3 linked regions of the Homo sapiens genome follow. The protein of the gene in region 2 purifies or fractionates together with the protein of the main gene of each other region. This does not show direct contact. Each region holds a gene or a part of one and is shown on either strand. Other genes may lie near its edges.

Region 1 (7,444 bases), on a different chromosome or scaffold from region 2:
GAAGTCCTTGAGGGTGACAGTGGTTATGCTACCTGGTAAGCTGATTTAACTCATATTTAACTGAAAGATATGAGAAATTACCTCATTTAACACGGATATGTCATCTATCTGTAAAATTACTTTAAGTCCTACACAAATGTAGGGCATACTAGATGAAGTAAGAAGACTGAAAAATTAAAACACTGAAGTATTTTCACTCATCACCCTGATAAACATGAAAAAGAATGGCAGTATGCAGTGTTGCCAAGGGTATGAGGAGACAGGCATGTGTCTAGAATGTAGGAATCAGAATATAGTAATGAGAATTAGTATGATCTTTGCAGAGGGCAATTTAACAATAGATATAAAAATCTTCATAACAATAACTCATTCTAGGGATTTATCCTAAAGATATAAATATAAAATATTTGTTCAAAGAGGTTTTATTTAAACTAATGAAAAATGTTAATGTTGTAGAAATATATTTATTAACATAAGCAGTTCACAATTTACTGTAAGAAAAAAAGCAAGCTACAAAACAGTGATTCCATGTTTATATTAAAATAAACATACACAAATTAAAAATTTCCTTAGATATCCATTTAATCTCTGGGATCATAAGCAATGTTTAGGTATTTTTTGCTCATTTATTGCCTAGGTTTTACACAATGAGCATATATGTTAATTGTGTAATTTAAAATTATGGAATTAAGTGCAAGAGTTCCTAACCACCTTTTACAAAACTGTTATGAGAAAATACATTCTAGATTCAAACAAAAACTAAGCAATATATCCCTTATTCTAACAGCTCTAAAATCTGTTCTTCTCATTATACTCCCACCTAAAATCCCACATCCAAAAAGTAGAAATAGCTGCTTCTGAATTCCTGAAAGTATCGGTAGGAGGTTGGGAGGAGAGGGGCCGGGATATGAAGAGAGAAACTGAATATTTGAGGACAGACTGTTCGTGTTTTGAGGGAAACTTTAGGAATAGGGCTTGGCTGAAGGAAGGAGGCTGCGAGGTTCCATGAATAAGTTTCAGCAAAATAGTTTCTCCTCTCACCAGTTTTCCACCTTATTCAGGTGTGCATCCACTGCTACATGCTCCAACCAATTGCTGTTGAGACCCCAGAGACCCCAGCACCACGTGTGATTAGGAAGCGCTTCCATCATTGAAATGGAATAGAGTCTACTTGCTCACAGTAACTCCTGTTTCTATTCCTTTGCTCCTTCCTTAGCAACTTCAGGTCTTTCTTCAGTAAAATTTTTTGCTTTGTAAACCTATTTTTTTTCACCTCCTGTAACATGATATGCTGCCCTTCTACGACCTTTGACATACCAATCATCTCCATCTGAAATACTTCTATCCCTTTCCCAACCCTATCTTGACTAATTTATTTCGTACTCATTTTTATTTTCATTTAGGTGCCACTTCCTCAGGGAATCCGTGAACACAGTGTCCATAACAGATTCCTTCAAGACTTTATCTCAATTAACAAATATATTTTATGCATTATTTAGTAAGGCTATCTACTATCTAGTTGAACCATTAAGTCCCAGGCTCAATGAAAACAGTGCCATTAGCTGGTTTTGCTCAGCATGGTTACTCCTGCATTTGGAACATAGCAAGTGCTCAACAAATATACGCCGAATGAGAGAATGAATGAATGAACAACTGAGTAAACAACTAGCAACCGAGAGGCTTGGTGGGGTAAGAATTACATTAACTATGTCACCTCATGGTGGAACTGTGCACATTTTTTCTTTTGATGGCGGACTTGTGTACTGACAAGACAAAGTTTTAAATAGATACGATTTTGGAAAGTTCCCTTTAAAGCAAAGCCATACAATAAATATTTAATCAGCCAAGAAAAAGGCTGTAGTCTAGCCTGGGGACTTCACAAATGACCCAAATCATGAGAGCCACGTCTCTACAGTGTCTTAGTACTGTATCTTCCTTGAGCAAAGGAACGCACTTGCCCCATCATGGCAAGTTCAGGTACAGAGTGCAAGGAATCTACAGCTTTCCTACCCCGACACAGGTTTAGGTAGGAAAACGCGAGCCTAGGATGATGGGGAGAAAGCGGGCATTTATTCAAAATGTATTTACTGAGCACCTACTGTGTACCAGAAAGCCCTAGTTGTGGGCTGGCTCTGACAGGTCCGCTGTGTAGCTTCGGGCATTTCTCCTTCACAGAGCCCAAGTCCTGAAGGCGAGCAAGTGGGGCCCCGCCTGCCTGCCTCAAAAAGCTGGGCTGGGGATTCCAAGGGCGAGAATGCGCTTCAGAAAGTGCCAGGAGGCACGAAGGCCAGCGGCCCCAAACGGCCTCGCTAACCTCGGCCCGGGCGCGGGGAGCGAGCCCAGGACGGCCGTCCGCTGGCAGCAGAGCCGGGCGGAGGCGGGCGCCCGCCCTCCGAGGGGCCGCGCTTACCCGTCGGGCGAGTACTCGAGGTTGAAGACGGCGCCGTGGGTGCGGGTGCTGAGGTACACCGAGTCCGCGGGGTGGATGGAACCGTAGAGGCTAGTCATGGTGCGAAAATTGTCCCGCGCCGGGTCCACGAACAGCCCGCGGCCCAGGCTGCGCTCTTTCAGCCACCCGAACAGCCTAGCGCCAGGGCCGCCCAGGCCCGCGCCGAGGCCGTGTCGGCCCCGGCTCTTGGCCCTGCAGTCTGGCCCGGGCCGCCGGCACGGAGGGGAGGGAGGTGACGGCTCTCCCGGGGCGGAGGCAGTTGAGGACTCCGGAGCTCCAGGCAGCCCTAGCTCTCCGGAGCGCGGGGCCGGGGACAGCGATGGGGCGCCGGGGCGGCGAGGGCTTCGGGCGGGTGGAGGGGGATGGGTCGCATCAGCCCCGGGATGTAGTGGCGAGGGCGGCCCGGTGGCTGCTGCCTGCCCCTCGTGGGGCGTCGGCTCCTCAGCCCCGGCTCCGGCCGATCCGTCCCCTCCAGGGCTATGGGGCCCAAAGGGAAACATGATCAACGCCCCCGCCCCCCGCTCCGGGCCACTGCCCCGCCGGCCGACACCTCAGTGCCCCTGTTCAGCTGCCACTTCCGGCGTGCAGCGGCCTAACCCCACCGGCTGGAAACCCGCGCCGCCCCTCGGCCACCGTCCGCCGGGGACCGGGAAAGCTGAGACACCGCCGGGTTTGGGGCGCCGCAGTCCCGGGAACGGAGGTAGGGAGCGAGTAGTTACCTGTGTGAGCGACTGAGCATCTGGGCACCTGATCTGGGTGGCAGAGTCGGTCTGTAGTTGTCAGTGACCGGTGGCCGCGTGCCTGGGGATGAGTGGCCTGACCAGTCAGTCCTGTGAGGCTGAGTATGTACTGGTGTCTCCACTTTACACTGGGATCAGCGAGGGATTAAGAATTAGTGCATTACGTGCAGGCCACACACAATAGGTGACATGCCACTCTTTTTTTTTTTTTTTTTTTCCGAGATGGAGTCTCGCGCTGTCGCCCAGGCTGGAGTGCAGTGGCGCGATCTCGGCTCACTGCAACCTCCGTCTCCCGGGTTCAAGCAATTCTCTGCCCCAGCCTCCCGAGCAGCTGGGATTACAGGCGCCCACCACCACGCCCGGCTAATTTTTTGTATTTTTTAGTAGAGATAGGGTTTCACCATCTTGGCCTGGCTGGTCTTGAACCTCGTGATCCACCCGCCTCGGCCTCCCGAAGTGCTGGGATTACAGGCATGAGCCACCGCGCCTGGCCAGCATGCCCAACTCTTAAAGGCACAACAAGTTCAGGGTGACCACAGGCAGCTTCTTCCAAAACCTATTTGTCACAAGGCAAAGGAGAGACTGAGAGGAAACAGGTTTGGATGTGCTACCCAAGGAATGGCTGAGATAGCCAGTCTGTGTATCTGGGCTTAAATGAAAGATGGCAAATAGGTGATAGTTACTTTTCTGGGTCAACTTGACTGGGCTAACAGATGCCCAGATAGCCTGGAAAACCATTATTTCTGTGTGTGCCTGTGAGGGTGTTTCCAGGACAGATTAGCATTTGAATCAATAGAAGATCTGCCCTCACCATTGTGGACAGGCATCATCCTATTCATTAAAGACTGAAAAGGAACAAAAAGGCAGAAGGGTGATTTAACTTTCTCTTAAGTTGGTACATCCATCTCCTGCCCTTAGACATCAAAACTCGGTTCTGCGGGCTTTGGACTTGGGGACTCATCGTCAGTTTTCAGGCCTTCAGTCTTGGACCGGGAGTTATACCATTAGCTCCTCTGATTCTCACACCTTCAGACTCAGACTGAATTACACCACCAGATTTCCTGGTTCTCCAGCTTGCAGACTGCAGATCATGGGACTCCTCTACAATGATATGAACCAATTCCCATATTAAATGTTCTCTTATATCTATATCTCCTATTGGTTCTACTTCTCTGGAGACCCCCTGGATGGGTCCAATCTACTGTAGCAGCCTACTTGCCTGGCATTCACACTCTTCATGTGTATGCCAGCACGTATATTCTACTGAACCCATCCTAGAAGTCCTAGGCTGTCGAATTTTGTAGCTGTTACTTAGCTTTCCTTGCCTACTAGCCGGGGTAGGACAACTATTTGAGTAACCAGGCTATAGATTAGCCACTGGTCCATGAGGCTGCCAGACCAAAAGTCTTTGCCCATACAGACTCATGCTCTTGGGAATTTGAATTGGGAAATCAGAAGTGAGGCAGTTGGCCATGATGGTTGGGATTGAAAAGTCATAAGGCAGAGTGAGGCCGCTGGAGTCCTGAGCAAACCAAAGGAGTAAGAGAAATCATGAGAAAGCAGCAGCCATGAGAGAACAGACTTGGGATAGACGGTGAGAAAGAAAGTTGATGGTAGGAGGAGATACAGATACATAAAAAGAGACAGACTCAGAACAGGTTAGACTTGTTCTTGGCAGAGTCCCCCTAGGGTCTTCCTGCAGAGTCCCTTGAGGTACCAGAATGATGGCTGCTCAATTTCAGTTTCAGTTTCCTGTGGGATGATCACTTGATTTCACAATACCTGAACCAGGACTTATGCACTGACAAAAAGAATCAAGGGCCAGACACAGTGGCTCACACCTGTAATCTCAGTGCTTTGGGAGGCCAAGGTAGGAGGATCTTTTTTTTTTTTTTCAGGGTCTCACTCTGTTGACCAGGATGGAGTACAGTAATACAGTCATGGCTCACTGCAGCCTCAACCTCCCAAGCTCAAGCAGCAGGAAGATCTTTTGAGGGTAAGGAGTTTGAGACCAGCCTGGGCAACATCATGAAACTCTGTCTCTCTATGAAAAATAACAAAATCATTCCGGTGTGGTGATGCATGCTTGTAGTCCTAGCTGCTCGGAAGGCTGAGCCAGGAGGATCCCTTGAGCCCAGGAGTTCAAGGTTACAGTGAGCTGTGATCACCCTGCACTTCAGCCTGTTGCACTTCAGCCTGAGCAACAGAGTGAGACCCCATCTCAAAAATTAAAAAAAAGAATTGGCACTTTGGGAGGCCGAGGCGGGTGGATCATGAGGTCAGGAGATCGAGACCATCCTGGCTAACAAGGTGAAACCCCGTCTCTACTAAAAATACAAAAAATTAGCCGGGCGCGGTGGCGGGCGCCTGTAGTCCCAGCTACTCTGGAGGCTGAGGCAGGAGAATGGCGTGAACCCGGGAAGCGGAGCTTGCAGTGAGCCGAGATTGCGCCACTGCAGTCCGCAGTCCGGCCTGGGCGACAGAGCGAGACTCCGTCTCAAAAAAAAAAAAAAAAAAAAAAAAAAAAAAAAAGAATTGGAATGACAACCAAGAAAACAAATGTGTCCTTTCAACCAGGGAGCCTTCTGTAGCCCAAAGAAAACAATGTACTCAAGGAGTAAAGTGATCCTATCATATAAGCTTATTGAAAAATAAAAAGCAAACATTCATATAATGTTTAGTGTATGCCTAATATTATGCTGAGTAAAGTGATCCTATCATATAAGCTTATTGAAAAATAAAAAGCAAATGTTCATATAATGTTTAGTATATGCCTAATATTATGCTGAGTTAAGTGATCCTATCATATAAGCTTATTGAAAAATAATAAGCAAACATTCATATAATGTTTAGTATGTGCCTAATATTATGCTAAGCTGGTTCATATATATTAACTCAAAACTCAAGGTATGTTGGTACGATTATTATCCCCATTTTAGAGATGAGAAAACACAGACACAAAAAAGAAAAGTCAGCCTGAGAGTGGTAAAGCCAGGATTCAAATCCAGGCAATCTAGCTCCAGGTTCCATGCTCGTAACCAGGTGCTACACACACATTTGTAGATTGGCTTGGATCTATAGCTATCGCTGTACATACAAGCTCCTTGCCAAGGATGGCAACTCAATAGTATTTTTTAAAAACCTCCAAATCTAAGCCAATCTACAAATATCAGGTCTGGCTCCCCTTTTCTTCTGAACACTTTTAAATTCTGAACCTTTGAATAACTGTAATCCCATGAAAAAGAACAACTTCCATTTGTTGAGTAAGTGCTTCACCAGGCTTATTGGTAGGAGCTTTGCAAGCATTGTCTCTAAATTTCCCTTTACTGGGGGCAGCCATAACTTGGCAACTACGAGGAAATGCAAGCTCAGTATTGCCACAGCTACAGATTTTTCAAAAAATGCCACATGTGGAAGTTCAAAATGAGGCCTGCTGTGGGCTCAATGATGCCACAAGAAATAGGACATAGGATGATATACCTAACACAGCAAGGAGATGCCTTGTGTGGCCATCAGTAGATCTTTGAGAAAAGACAGAGTCACTCTGTTTTACAGGCGTGAGCCACTGTGCCCAGCCTCATATTCTCTTTATTTAAGAAGATACCGGAGGTTATGGACCTCTAGCAAAATGGACAGGTAAAGCAAGAAAGTGGAATAAAAGTGATCTAAGTGGATCTAAGAAGGAGAGCAGTGCAGGAAGGTATAAAAGACAGGTGTACAAAAAGGGAGGGAAATATGACACATGCTACAACGTGTATGAACCTTGAGAATATTATGCCAAGTGAAATCAGCCAGTCACGAAAGGATATATATACTGTATGTTTCCACTTCTATGCAGTACCTAGAGTCGTCAAATTCACAGAGACAGAAAGAAGAATGGTGGATGCCAGGCACTAGGGTGAGGTGGGGATGGGGAGGTATTGTTTCATGGGTACAGAATTTCAGTTTTGCAAGATGAGAAGAGTTCTGGAGATGGATGGTGGTGATGGCTGCACAACAGTATGAATACACTTAACACTGTGTATGTACTGAATGTACATGTAAAAATTGTTAAGATGATAAATTTTGTTATGCATATTTTACCACAATTAAAGAAAAGACAGCTGTGCAGCAGGCCTGAAGAGCAGCCCCCCCAAAGTGGGAGGAGCACAGAGTGGGAAGTCTCCAGAGGAAAAATGGAAATGGAATGTTGCAATCTATTAAGGCGAGGCAAAAGACTCCAATGCCAGAATAGTGGAAGAAATTAACAAAGTAT
Region 2 (7,852 bases):
GAGAAAAAGGGGCTGGACCTAGGATGGTGGGACCAGGACCTGACTCCAGGTCTTCTGCCACCTAGACTGGAATGCTCACCTCACCACCCCGGAGCCACAACAGTCTGGGTGCTCCCACGTCCCTCTTCATTCTGCCCAGGCCGCAGCATAGCCTCTGCTCTGGGATTCTGCCTGGGGCTGACCCTTGGCATCTGCACTGACGCCTCTGTTCATTTCGCTTTGTGCTCCTTCCAGCCAAGCACAGTGCTCACAGGTGCTCAGAGGCTTGGCTACCCCAGGTTTCCTTGCTGGAGGGTTCGGGAGAGCAGCATGCTGACCTGCCTCCTCCAGTGTGCCCGTGCACCTGCCATGGTCAGCAGCAGTGAGAGTGCCTTTGCCACCACACACCGTCTTAAGTATTCTGAGGCTAGCGTGGGACAGACAGCACAGGGCTGCCTTCCTTGCCTCCAGGGGAGGAAGCCGCACACATGTGTTCACACACAAGATGACTAAATTCAGCATTCCTGAATTGCTATATTCAGCATTCCTGTCCCACTGGCCTCTCTGCGGGGGCCCTGGGCAGCCCTTGTGAAGTCAATCCAGTTACCTGCAAATTCCTGGAATTGTTCTAGAAGCTCCTGAGGGCCAGACTGAGACCCCACCCATACTCCTGCACCAGGTTCTGGCCACTCTGGTGGGGCCTCCAGGTCTCTGAGGTTCCTCCTGAGATTCTAGAAAACAAAAGGACTGAGAGGCTGGGGACAGAGGGAAGAATCCATTCCCTGTGTCCCAAACCCACAGTCACATGCCAGGTCCCTGCAACAGTCCAGGCGACAGGCACAGAGCACAGCAGCTCACCCTGCTCAGCACAGACTGCACACCCCACGAGGGCAGGCCCTGTTCTCGCTGCATCAACCTGGGCCTTGGCCAAAGCCAAGTGTGTGTTGGGTGGGGAGGGTAGGCACACTACAAAGATGAGTAACAAACAGCCCCTTCAGAGGGAGAGCAAAAACATCCCCAGAAATGAGGGAGCTGACTTAGGGGGGAAAGTGACACCAATTTCCGAGGGGGAGAAATTATGTCTTATTCACCTCCTGTCTCAGAAAATCAACGTCAGTTAGAGGAACACACAGGAAGACTTTTAAACCAGATGCCAGCATCTCCTCATTCCTAGAGAATGAGGCTTGCTCAAGGCGCATATTTTATCCAAGCACCGCCAGGCCATCCACACCCCCACTGCACCCCGTAGATGGATGCTCCCAGGCTGCCACGATTACTGCTCTCAAACATCCACATCCCAGAGGCACAGAGTCACTAGCTAAGCATCATCCCCGAAACAGGCAACTCAATCCTAACAAGGGGGTTGCCTGGGTGGTTACCCAGTGCCCTGGCTGTGCCCGAGGGAGAAGTGCCTGGAAGCACAGTCTCAGACTGCAAGGAGCCTTCCCCAGTCTTTAAAGCTAGCTCTTCTCCAGGCCCACCCCAGCTCATGGGGTCATGGAACTGCTTCGCTTTTACAGATGAGGAAGCCGTGGTCTCCACCATAGCCACAGTTAACCAGCAGTGGGGTCATTCCACTTCCCAGCTCCCTCAGCCCCGTGCAGCCCCCACCGGCCTTTCCCGCCATACCTCCTCCTACTCCCCAGGCATGCTAAGTGCTCCCATCAGACCTAACTGCCCAAGTGCCTCGGTCTATTCTCTCCTCTCTGCCCACAATGCCCAGCTTAGCTGTGCCCATGTCCTTCAAGCTCCAGTTCAAATGTCATGTTGCCCACGAGCTCACCTGACCCCCCAGCCCAGGACACCACTCTGAGGTCCCTCCCGAGGCCCCTGCACCTGCACTCAAGCGGGGTTGGTCGAGTAGAGACGTTTTCCCCTATGCGGTGGTCAATCAGTCCTGGGAGGGCAGGCCCAGTCCACTCCCACCCGGTGCACCCCAGCGTCAAGCTCTGGGGGAGTGACCACTCAATAAATATTTGCTTAATTGAATTTGGCCAAGGAGCCTTCTCCAGAGAGCTCAATCCCCAGGGCAGGGAAATCACTTGGGCAGAAAGGAGCCGGTCAGGGGCTCAGCTGTCTCCCCAAGCAAGACAGACCTCTCTACCAGGCGGGTCCCTCCACCCCAACACGGACTACGCGGAACGCTGGTCTCGCTTGGCATCATCCTCTTGTCTCAGTTAACAGGAGCCCCCATTCTCGGCCTAGGCCGAATCCTGCCATCATCACCCAGGAAGGCTCAGCACCGCCCTAAAGGCAGAGCCCCCTCGGATCGCCCGCAGGATACGGAGCGCCAGCCCTGAGGCCCTCACTCCCCTCCCCCAAACACCCCCACCGCCTTTTAAGGGAAAAAATATTGAGCCGGGAACGTATTACAATCGCAGCAGGTCGATACTCATCTCTTCCTCTAAATGCCTGTGAGGAACCTGCTCGCTGCAAGAGCAGTGACCGAGAACTGCTAGCTGTCCGTCTGCGGGCCCAGGTCCTCGGGCCCAGGCCTCTGGGGCCCTCTCCTCGGTTTCAGGCAAGGCCCTGCATCGGCTCCGGCCGCCCCTCCCTGATCCTCCCCCTAGGGAGACCCGCCTCAGCGCCGCTCCCGCAGCTCGCCTGGCCCGCCCGGGCTCCGCATCAGCCGCTGCTTGGGGGCGCCCGGCGGCCCCGCGCGGCATCCCCGGCGCCCTCTGTCCACCCTCCCGGGTCCTCAACCGCCCCCTCCCGCGGGGTCATCGGCTTGGCGGCGCATCCCTCCCCCAGCACCTGCCCGACCAGAGGCCGCCCCCTGCCCACCTCGCAGGCGTCCCCGCCCTTGGTGTCCCCCACCCCTGAGGGGCATCCCTGACGCTGCGTCCTGGCGGATCCGGGGCACAAAGGCCTGGGAAGAGTCCCAAGTGGGGGCAAGGTGGATGCCCCGGCCGTGCCCCCGACCCCTGAGGCTCAGCGGCGCGCGGCCGGCCGCGGGTCGGCTCACTCACCTCCGGGCCGCAGCACAGAGCATCTGCCGAGCTGCTCCGGGCAGGGCGGGGCGGGGCGGGGCGGCGAGCACGGGGCCGCGGCGCCCTCGTTCCGTACGACGCGGGCAGCGGCGCCCACGCGGGGACGTGACCGGACCGCGGGCGGCGCACACGCTCCGGCCGGCCTGGTTCCCTCCGCCCGCCCTCCCGCGCCGCCCGCCGCCCGCCGCCCGCCGCCAGTCCGCGGGTCCGCCCGCCCCGCGCCGCGCCGCCGCCGGCAGGGGGCGGAGCCGCGAGCGCAGCCCGTTGCCAGGCCAACCGCGGGCGGGGGGGTGCCGCGCGCCCGCCGGGCACCACGCGCCGGGCACCTCCGCCCCGCCACGAGCGCCGGCCCTCTGTCCATTGGGCACAGGCAGCTGACGGACGGGCCAGTAGCCCAATGGGGACGGACAGGGGCGGGGTCGCAGCTCCGCGCGCGCCGCAGTCCCGCAAGAGCTCCCCGCGCCGGCGTTCCACCGACTCCGCTGCGCTGAGGCCTGGTAGCCGAGCCCCAGGGGCCACCTCTGGCAGCCCGGGAAACCAAGCCTGAGCCCAGCCATGGTCCTGGCCCTCTTTACTGCAGCCAGTCCCGGCTCGCCTTCTCTCCACTCGGGTTCAAACCCAGTTCGGCCTCTTGTGAGCTCTACGTCCTTGGGCAACCGACTGACCTCTCTCAGCCTTTCTGTTTGCAAAGTGGGGCTAGTGGCACCTGCTTTCCTGGATTGTCTCACCAATCCTTCAGAACGTGTGAAAGGCCTATGCAAACCCTAACGATTTACACCGGTGAGGTTTGTGCAGCGATGGGAGGGAGCATTAGTCATCTCTGCCGCCGCCCCCCGCCGCCACCGCCCAGTGTCTAGGGGCTCTTTGGCGTCCCTGGCAATCCTGGCACACGGAAGGGTGGCCTTGGGAGGGAAGGAAGGGAGAAGGACCGAGGAGCTGGCCCCCAGCCCAGACAAGCGTGAGAGAGCCAGTTCAGTTAAGGCCACTGATTGGCGCTTTTGGGAAGCTGGTGGAAAGCATCAGACCCTCAGCAAAACGCAGCTGAACCCAGGCTGCAAAATTCTGTTTTCAATTTCAAAGCCTATCTGTGGACCTCAGGGCCAGGAGTCCCTCAGTTCCATGCTTAAAAGACTCTCAAGCCAGAGGGCCAAGACATGAATGCTCCTGTCTCTCTTCTCCATCTTTGTAAATCTGAAGCTTTGTGTATCCTAGAGCATCCCTGACAAAGTGCAAATGCCTTCCCAGCTAACGCGTTCCTTATCACCTCACACCTTTGTAAGGTGTGGATCATGCCATTCTTTGAGCAGCAGCCCTGGACCTGACCATGGCAGAGGTCCATGGAGCGGTCTCTCCATCATAGCTCTGTGGTGGAGGGGCAGGGGCATGTGCCTGGCTTTGCCAGCTGGACACTGTGGCATCTCAGCATCATCCCATAACCTCCCTAGGAATGTTTCCTCTTCTGTGAGATGGAGACCATTGCGTTACGTACCTGCAGGGTCATGGGCCACCTGTGAGGGTGCTGCCTCAACTGTCAGGAACAGGACGTATATTTGTTATGGGCATCATGGAGGCGAACTTAGTGCTCACTGGAGGTGTCCAGTGAGGACCAAGGGAATTCAGCCAATGGCTGAGGGGCTAGCTACCCTTTGTGCTTGCCTTCCACACCACCAGGCTGTGTCAGGCTGGACCTCTTGCCAGGAGGACCACACAGAGACCGGCAGCTGTGCTACCTGGCTGAGCCTCTGTTTCCTCTTCTGTCAAAAGGGAATGTAACAGACTGTGGTCAGAGGGTGGCTCTGAGGGTTAATGTTTATAGGAAATGCATATTAGCATGTCTTGGGATAGCCAGAGGCTGTTTCCACTGCAGAGTCTGGGGGTCAGAGTTGAATTGTTTGCAGAGGTAAGCCCACATGCAACAGTGAGATGGCCCTTTCCAGTGGTCCAGAGCAGAGGCTAGCCTGCGGAGGGGTCCACTGGGGCTGGCTGACACCTCCCTGACTTGACCTCAAAGTAAGAGAGGGACATCTCACCTGGCATCAAACCAATATTGTATTCATGCAGCAGTCACTTACAGATAGCCTCCTCCACCAGGGTATAGTTGTAGGCACAGTTCTAGGATTCAGACCGGCCCTTTTCTGGCAGACCCTCTGCCTGTAGGGCAGGGGCAGAAAGCAAACAACGATTGGGCCTTACAGTCATGTGAGGCTATCTGAGGAGACCCACTGGGGCTCTGGGGGCATGTGGAGTGGGGGAGCATTGGGCATTGGGCCAGCTTCCCAAAGGAAGAGATGCTTGGAATGAGGCCATAGCAGGCGTGGAGGTGGCCAGTGACATAGGGTGGGAGGGAAGTGAGTTCCAAGGCGGGGACGGTGCAGGACATGAAGGAGCACGAGGCCAGGAAGAACCCAGAGAAGACCAGTGTGGCTGGGGCCAGGGTCGTTGCCCATGCACAGATGCCAGCTTGGGGCAGTAGGATCAGGGACGTTGGCCTAAGAACTGCTCGAGAGTTTTAACATTAGTCTTTTAAATTTGAGAAGGAGGAGGAGAAGTTTTTAATTGCCTGTTTACAGTAGGCGTGGTCCCACAGACAATGTGAGTTGTCCTACTGGACATAATAAAATAACAAAAACATCAGTTAGTCAGTCCAGAGGAAGTGGGAGTGAGCACAGAAGTCAGTCTGTGAGGCTGAGTTCAGTGTACGGTCTGCTGTGGCTGTGAGATGGCAGGGAGACCAAGAGCATGTTAGGAGACAGTGGCGGGGCATTATCAGGACCCAGGGAGATGAGAGAAGGGGAGAGGGTGGGGACCACTGGAGGAAGAGATGGTGCTTACCAAAAAGATGGAGGAGCAGTTGGGGAGGTGGTCAGGAACCAGAGAATGGAGGGTACCAGAGGCACGGGAAGAGAGCATGTGGTAAAGGAAGAAGCTGTTAACCATGCTCCCAGCTACCTGGAAGCCGAGAAAGCTGAGGACAGAGAAGCACCCCTTGGAGCAAAGGCAGGCCCAGTGGGCCAGGAGTTCAGGGCACAGGGCCATGCAAGGCTAAAGCTGGACAGGTGGGTCACCTGCGGCAAGGTGGGCCCCAGATGCCATGTGTGGATGTGCAGTCCCCTAACAGGAAAGGGTGTGGCTGCGACCAGAACCTGGGTGCTGGTGCTCTGTCCTGAGCCCTCATTGGCTGGGAGACAACAGCTGGGGCTTTGCTGTAGCCAGAGGAAGGGGGCCATGGTGGTGACTGAGCCCACTCAGCACCTCCCCAACCCAGCAGGCACAGCTGGCTGAGGAGTGGCCCCTCAACATGGTGTCAGCACCCGCCCTGCCCCACCACAAAGAAAATGACCCAGACTCCACCACTGGGGCTCCACACCATGGACATCCGTGACCCCTCAATCCCATTGGATCTCTTTGGCTCATCAACCACTGAACCCATCCTAGCCCCTACATATCAGCCAGGCCAGATCGGGGACTCCCCACAAACACATACATTTGAGCCCTGCTGTTCTGGGCTCTCCTCCACATCCATGAGAACCAGCTTCCCCGGGGCCTCCCTTTGTGCACCTCCAGAGCCCCTAGGACCCTGGAATTCCTGGTCTACACACATGTCAACCTGTTCTGTAGTGACCTGTCCCCAGCTGACTATTCCACTAGTTTTCCCACTTCCCGGGGGTGGGGTGGGCATATGTTGCTTGTCTCTAAACCATGGATGGCCCAGAGCCTGGCCTGCTCTGGTGCCACCCCATCTGGCTGATTCTCTGTGCCCCACCTGTCCTACCTCTTCTGCAACCACCCCCCACCCCCAGCGGACGCTCAGGCTGCCGCCCAGTTGGGTGGATTTCCCCGATTGTTTCCCTGGGGTCTGTGTGCCCCACCCCCACTTGAGCAAGCCATCGCAGATCTGGGTTAGTTATAAATAGCCAGGCCCGAGACTCTTCTTTTAGCTGAAAAGAAGCAAAGTGAACGAGCAGAAAGGCACACCCGGCACGCGTTTTATTTTTAATCTTCTCCCTCTGTCTCAAAATGAACCCCGGTCCCTGTGCTAAGCATTTCTAGGAGCAGAAGTACAAGACAAATGCCTGAGAAACAAAACCCAAGGGGCTGAGGGTCCCGCCTGGCTTTGCCACCATCTGCTGTGTGACCTTAGGTATTCAAGTTGCCTCTCTGGGCCTCAGTTTCCTCACCAAGGAGAGGTGGGTAATGGAGGTGATCACCTTGAATGTTGACTTTTCTGACCTCAACTCCTTCTATATTCCTCCCCTAACTTGTGCCCATCCTGACTCAGCAATGACACCTGTCCCAGGGATTTCCTGGGAAGCTCAGATAGGTGAGACGAGGCTACAATCTAGCCCTGATTTGAAAATTAACAACTTCCTTACCCCCAGGTCTTTGCTCAAGTGTCCCCATCCCAGAACTTTGTCCTTCCATCTGCCAGCAAAATTAACAGAAGGTCAAATTGTCGCCTCCCTGCTGTGAGCTGGAAGAGGGCCGTCCAGGTCACCACTGAGTTGAATCTATAGCCAGGAGTGGGTAGGGAGACCGTGGGCAGAACCTGAGGGGAAGCAGAGCGGGAGCAGGAGGCCAGGTGTGTGGTATGGGCAAAGCAGGGAGCTGCGAGAGAGAGAGGATCAGGCCTCGGGAGGGGTGGTAGGGTTGGGGGGTTTCTGCACTGATGGGATCTGCAGGGCTTGGGCTGTGCAGCGTTTGTCTTGTATCCTACTCCTCAGCCTCCAGCAGGCCCTTGCTTGTAGCTGGGACTCAGTGTTGGTGGAATTCAGGAGACTCTTGCCACCCTAGGCCCAGATGTTCTGGGCACACAGGGACAGACCCTTACATGGATGAAGAAATCCACAGCACGTGGAACACGTTTTCATCCACAACCCCCTGCC
Region 3 (7,025 bases), on a different chromosome or scaffold from region 2:
ATCCTCCTTCCTCATTAGAAAAGTCACCCACATGTTTGCCCCACATCACTGTTGTAAAATCTCTTTATCCCCTAACAGAAGCATTAAAAGCAGGTTAAGTATTTCCACCCCTCCTTCCGGATCAGGCTGTAGAGAAGAAAGGCAAATCAGCAAATGGGGCCAGGCACGGTGGCTCATGCCTGTAATCCTAGCACTTTGGGAAGCCGAGGCAGGCGGATCATGAGGTCAGGAGTTCAGGCGGATCACAAGGTCAGGAGTTTGAGACCAGCCTGACCAATATGTTGAAACCCTGTCTCTACTAAAAATAGAAAAATTAGCTGGGCATGGTGGCGGGTACCTGTAATCCCAGCTACTTGGGAGGCTGAGGCAGGAGAATTGTTTGAACACAGGAGGCGGAGGTTGCAGTGAGCCAAGATTGCACCACTGTACTCCAGCCTGGGCAACAGTGCAAGACTACGTCTCAAAAAAAAAAAAAAAAGAAAGAAAAGAAAAGAAAAGAAAGGCAAATCAGCAAATGGAAACACAAGAAGGAAGCCCCAATGTGAATGTCCCCGAGTGTACGCATGATTTCTGTTGGAGGAATTCCTGGCCTGAAGAGACAGCATAAACAAAGGCCATCCAGAGGGAAACAAATGATAAGATAAGTGAAACCCAGCAACTCTCTCTGTCCTCCCCTCTACCTACTTCCCTCAACTTGTTCGTCAGAAAAACAATCTGAGCTTGACAGAATTACAATGTAAGCCTTCCTCTCCCAGCTGCCTCACAGCTCTCATTCTAAGCTAGAGGGTTAAGGGGGGAAGACATGCTTTTCTGTAAGGTCAGTGATGGGGCTCCCAAGATATGGAACTTGGCAGACTGGAGACAGCCATCTCACCCTGCCCACAGAGAAGCCAAAGGAGCAGAACTGTCAAACTGCAATGCAGGGAGTATAGAAAGAAAAGGTAAGGTATGGAAGAAACGTAACTTCAGACACAGCCTGAAAAGAAATTGGGTTAAATATAAAACTATATACATTTTTAAAAACATTTTAACCAGCCCTTAGCAGAAAATATCATAGGCAAGGCAGTTTCCTGCCACAGTTCCTAGAACTTCCATAGTTGGAAGTGTTACCTACTCACAGAATCTCAAGCCCTAAATGGGTCAGAGTATTTCCAGTTTAATCTCTATTCTTGATTTTTAAAAGACGAAAATATAATAGCAGGCCTGTTCATTTAACCTTCTGAGAACATGGTGCGGTCAGTCTCAGCCATTGGCTTCAATTCCAGCATTTATTTATTGCATGTCCTCCAACTTTTAGTTCACATTACCAACAGTGCTGAACAAAGTACCTCTAACGCAGAAATGACTGCCACACAAACAGGATGGGGAAACCAAACAGAAATGGTATTGTTGTTTCTTTTCCACCATCAGCCTAAATCAAATAGCAGCCACTAATAATGAGTTAACTGTAGTTGCATTTGAAAAAATAATTCCCGCGGTGGCTCACGCCTGTAATCCCAGCACTTTGGGAGGCTGAGTCGGGCGGATCACGAGGTCAGGAGATCGAGACCATCCAGGCTAACACGGTGAAACCCCGTCTCTACTAAAAATACAAAAAACTAGCCAGGCGTGGTGGCAGGCGCCTGTAGTCCCAGCTACCCGGGAGGCCGAGGCAGGAGAATGGCGGGAACCTGGAAGGCGGAGCTTGCAGTGAGCCGAGATCGCGCCACTGCACTCCAGCCTGGGCGACAGAGCGAGACTCCGTCTCAAAAAAGAAAAAAGAATTCCAAATGGGTTGCCTTGAACAGAAATGTATGACATTTTCCATATTCACAATTTCACCAACTTTCAAGAATAGAGAATGCAGCAAGTTTCTTCAGTTTAAGCTGTTTCATTTCCTTTAATTTCTTACAATTAGTTTTTTTGTGGGTTTTGTTTTTTTGTTTTGTTTTGTTTTGTTTTTTGAGACAGAATCTCGCTCTGTCACCCAGGCTGGAGTGCAGTGGCAGGATCTCAGCTCACTGCAAGCTCCGCCTCCCGGGTTCACGCCATTCTCCTGCCTCAGCCTCCGGAGTAGCTGGGACTACAGGCGCCCGCCACCACGCCCGGCTAATTTTTTGTAATTTTAGTAGAGATGGGGTTTCACCGTGTTAGCCAGAATGGTCTCGACTTCCTGACCTTGTGATATGCCCGCCTCGTCCTCCCAAAGTGCTGGGATTACAGGCGTGAGCCACCGCACCCGGCCCATTTCTTACAATTAATTTTGTAGTACATTCTGGGGATTTAGAAGGGTCCCTGGTCTAAACCTCTTGTTACAGAACTGCGGGTTCTAACTTGTGTCTAAACATTTCCCTGCTTGGTTTTACCAAATCTCTATGAAACTAATACAAATTTAAGCTTAGGCACATATGAACAATCTATCTCATCTGGTGAATAATGTTGACCACCATCCTTTACTCTTCTTCTTGGGCACAAATATCCAGAACTTTATCTAAGAGTAAGTCCAGAAGTAGCACCCAAACACACATTGATGGCATCTGTCATTCTGCCAAGAAAGGAAAAAGATCAAGGCTATTGGCTTTGGCAAACTTTCAAGAAGCTGCCCCTAGTCCTGACCTAATCTTCACAGGAGGACAACTGTCAGAAGCATACGGTTCCTTAGCAAGCTGCTGGCAGTCTTGCCTCTCACTTACAGGGTTTTCCTACCAGTTCGCTTTAAAATATGGCACCTTTTTTTGCCCTTAGTAGTGATAGCTGTGCACTGATATGTCCACAATGTACAGTCTAGTCCCCAAAAGCATGATTAATTTAAAAAAAAAAAAGATACAGAAAAAATCTGACTAGAATTACAGGTACAGTTTGTGGCTCCAAAACAAGGCAAAGCTAACCCATGCCCTTGACCTGGTTTGTATGTCACTAACAAACTGAGCTAGCCAACAAGCCAGAATATAAGAACCTATCTCAGAAAATAAAAGATGGGCATCTGTATTACCCCAACAATGCCCAAAGCTAGGATCTGGGCTATCTACTCTTGTAAGCCTAAATTCAGGAAGTCTATCAGATAGGCAACATTTTCCAATCACACTGCAGGTATTTTTTTTAGACATAAAAATGACAAAGACCAGTTTAATAGGTGACCTTAATTGTGTGCCAGCAGAAATACAGGTAGCCTTAAAACCCCAATCCTGGTGTAATTTATAGAACAGAATAAACCCAGGTTATTACTAAAGGTGAATGACATACTTAAAAAGTATAACAAGATGAGGCCAGGCGCGGTGGCTCACGCCTGTAATCCCAGCTCTTTGGGAGGCCGAGGCAGGCGGATCACGAGATCAGGAGATTGAGACCATCCTGGCTAACACGGTGAAACCCCATCTCTACTAAAAATACAAAAAATTAGCTGGGCGTGGTGGTGGACACCTGTAGTCCCAGCTACTCAGGAGGCTGAGGCAGGAGAATGGCGTGAACCTGGGAGGCGGAGCTTGCAGTGAGCTGAGATCGCACCACTGCACTCCAGCCTGGGCGACAGAGCAAGATTGTCTCAAAAAAAAAAAAAAAAAAAAAAGTATAACAAGATGAATGATTAAGAAAAAAGAAAAACCTTCTGAAATCAATGTCTGTTCAAAAAATTTTATGATTGTGTAGCCTAATGGCTAACAAGCCTTTTGTTTTCATGTTTCCCTTCCTGGCAATATGCCGTTAAGGCATAGCTTTCCTATTATTTCCTTGTGTTTTAGTCAATTGTCTTCATTAAATATTGTCTAAGTGGCACAATATCTAGTTTTAAGCCAAAAGGAAAAGATCTATTGTAAGTCACGAAATCGCACCAACTGCATTGGAAATTGAACTTGCTTCCCTGGTTTTCCCCATTTAATTCACAACTGTGGCTATGGTTTAAAAGAATAGAAATTGTTTATTTGGCACCAAATTTGCTCCACTGTAAAAATAAATAAAAGTATCTCTTCTGAGGTGGGGGGAAAAAGTTTATTTTAATATCTAAGGCTATCCAATATTAGATTACATGTTTGACTACTGCTCAAGTGTTCATTATTTTCTTTTCAAAAGAGCTTTCACAATGTATGTTAAAAGACTACAGGGAAGAGGGAGGCTGAGAAATTATGGGCCCTCTTAACTCTCAACACAGGCTTCTGTGGCCCTGTTCAGGGTGAGAAGATCTTTTATCAGATGAGGGATTCAACCCAGTGAAAAGTTACCTCACTTAACAAATAAGGTCTAATGCTGGACAGGCTCCAAACAGATTTAGAGTTGTAATATAAGAGCATTTCCTTTTTCAAATAATTTGTCTATCGTTCATACAGCAAAGGAGAGCTCCAAAGTTTTATCATTTAAATACTCAAAAACAACATTTTTAATCTCACACAACATTTTCTGTTCCAGAAAATCAGGCTGTAAGAACCTGTGACATGAAGAAGTCATTTTACTCTCAATTAATCCAGGACTTACTGACCCAGCACTGTCTGAGAATTAAGAGACTCAAAGGAAGCTGTGATTACCCCAACTCGAGTTGCAGAGAAAAGAATAACGTGCCGGAAAGTCAGAAACCAGGCAACATCAGGATGTATAAAGAACTAGACTGCTTGAGTCCCTAACCTGGTCTGCCACTTACAGGCTGTGTGGCCTAAGCTAGGCAAGTTCTTTAACTTCTCTGTGCCTCAGTTTCCTCATCTAGAACATGGCAATAAAAGTATCTATCTTGTATAATTATGTGCAGTCAATGACGTAGCCCATGGAAAGTATTAGAAAGGGCTTGGCATGAGGTAGGCACCTCACATACAATATCGGTATCAAATTAGCTGTAAGTGTTGTGTGGTCAAGCTAAGTGCTTTAAGGAGGAAGGGCAGGGAAGGCTTCGTGGAAGCTGTGGCACCTGAGCTAGATATGAAAGCACAAGATAATCCAGACACTCAGAGGGAAGCACATTCCAGACGTGGACAGCCATTACTGCAGAAAGTCACAGACAGAGTAAAAACCAGGAACGCTTAAACATCAATGAGGAAAACAAGCTCACCAAAGCTGAGGGTGTATTTGGTAACCCCAGATTAATTGGGAGTGATGGGGAAGGCTCTGCACACTTGTTGCTGTGCTTCTAGGACTTAACATTCAGTTCATTTTTAGACACATGTTCTATGTATGCAAACTTGTGGACTATGAATGCAAACTCTCCCTGAAATGCTCTGTTCTCCCCCTGCTCCTAGAACAGTGGAAAGGATACTAAAAAATTAAAAGGTAACCTTTTATTTCTGAAAAAAAAAATCTGCTGGATGAAATATAGGTCACTAAAATCAACTTGAATCTCATGTTCGTCTGTCCCTGTTTCAGTGGGGCTACAAACAAGGTGACAGCTCAGAGAAAGGGGGTGAACTTCAGATCCACACTTCAACGCTGGTCTCTATCAGCAGCCTCAGCCACTCTAAATAATATAATCTACATAAAAGACAGTACACTTGCTAAGTGAATGCATCTTCAAGAGGGGTATCATCCACCCTAGCCTGATCTGTCAACCAGACATTACCTCCAAGCCACATACAGAAATAGAGAAAATGCTCTCAGTACCAGTTTCTTAAATAGTACCTGTGCAATCAATTTCCTCTAAACTTTGAGGGTTTTGTTGTTGTTGTTGTTGTTGTTGTTTTGAGACGGAGTCTCGCTCTGTAGTCCAGGCTGGAGTTCAGTGGCGCAATCTCCGTTCACTGCAAGCTCCGCCTCCCTGGTTCAGGACATTCTCCTGCCTCAGCCTCCTGAGTAACTGGGACTACAGGCACCCGCCACCACACCCGGCTAATTTTTTGTATTTTTAGTAGAGACGGGGTTTCCCCGTGTTAGCCAGGATGGTCTCGATGTCCTGACCTCATGATCCTCCCGACTTGGCCTCCCAAAGTGCTGGGATTACAGGCTTGAGCCACCGCGCCCGGCCTAAACTTTGAGGTCTTGAAACCACTACAACAGATGCTGTGCGTACTTAAGATTGGTATTCACTTAGAATATTACCTCTATTACCAAGTTAGAAATTGTAATACCAAAATAAGTCACCATATTCCTCATCCAAAGAGGAAAAAATCACAACAGAATATAGAACTTCTATTTTGACTGGTGTCCCCTCTAGAGAGAAAACAAGTTTGCTAACCCAAGTTGGACACCTTGCTTTGTTTCCGGCAATATAAGGATAGACTTAACACTGGAAATACCAGAGCACGGCTTGAAGCCAGGGAGGGCCCCACAGCAGTTACAAGCTCTGTGATTATTTCCTGAACCAAACACCTAGGGCACTCAAGGATACCAAGCTTTGTTGGAAAAGCATGTTTCCTCTGGTCCAACAGCTGCAACTTTAAAGTGTTTTCACACAAGACCTCAAGTTTCTCTTTATGCCATCTCCCAAATATTTACAAAATGAAACACTTTCAATCAGAACTTTTGCTTGTAAACACCTTATTTGTTTTAAGGACCATAGTGCCAACACTAAAAGCAGCCTTTTAAACAAAGTAGCTCAAAACCACACACACACACACACACACACACACACACACACACACACACACCCCTTAACAAGCAGAACATGTCCACAAAACAAGAAAGCCAGGATTCAAATTCCTTAGCACCTATTCATGGAGCTCCTGTAAGCACCACCCAAGGATGTGACCCACCACACCCTCTTCATTATCACACCTCCTCACTAATTTACTAATTTATGCTCCTGAAAACCCACAGAATCAGACTACTGGATGGTAACATGTTACAAATATTGGGCAAATGTTCTTTCACATTTCTTTCACATCAACCAGCCTGAAACAACTGATCCTGTTTACGGAACGGCTCTGCCTCAGGTGAGAGGACTATTGTCTCCCAGCTCTTCTGGGAGACACTGGTGGCCTGGCAAAGGCTTCTGGGTATCTTTCTCTTGGTGTCTCTCCCTATTCACGTGTCACACACCTCCTGGGAAGATTATCTGGGCCAAGGATAGTGCAACTGAGAGAAATCTAGAAATGCCTGGTTCAGGGGTAATAAGAAATTGTAACTACAAAGAAACA

Evidence for each region.
Region 1: the proteins of GNAZ (region 2) and DCAF10 purify together in Homo sapiens (affinity purification with mass spectrometry; 3 studies listed by BioGRID and IntAct, with this or other methods). This does not show direct contact.
Region 3: the proteins of GNAZ (region 2) and DAAM1 purify together in Homo sapiens (affinity purification with mass spectrometry; 3 studies listed by BioGRID and IntAct, with this or other methods). This does not show direct contact.

Annotation. Positions count from the first base shown.
Region 1 is NC_000009.12:37,796,372-37,803,815, reverse strand, and holds the start of DCAF10 (DDB1- and CUL4-associated factor 10), read right to left. Parts: upstream 3,020-7,444; 5' UTR 2,950-3,019; coding exon 2,411-2,949; intron 1-2,410. UniProt on the Homo sapiens protein: May function as a substrate receptor for CUL4-DDB1 E3 ubiquitin-protein ligase complex.
Region 2 is NC_000022.11:23,065,667-23,073,518, reverse strand, and holds the start of GNAZ (guanine nucleotide-binding protein G(z) subunit alpha), read right to left. Parts: upstream 3,001-7,852; 5' UTR 2,949-3,000; intron 1-2,948. UniProt on the Homo sapiens protein: Guanine nucleotide-binding proteins (G proteins) are involved as modulators or transducers in various transmembrane signaling systems.
Region 3 is NC_000014.9:59,191,661-59,198,685, reverse strand, and holds part of DAAM1 (disheveled-associated activator of morphogenesis 1), read right to left. Parts: intron 1-7,025. UniProt on the Homo sapiens protein: Binds to disheveled (Dvl) and Rho, and mediates Wnt-induced Dvl-Rho complex formation. May play a role as a scaffolding protein to recruit Rho-GDP and Rho-GEF, thereby enhancing Rho-GTP formation. Can direct nucleation and elongation of new actin filaments.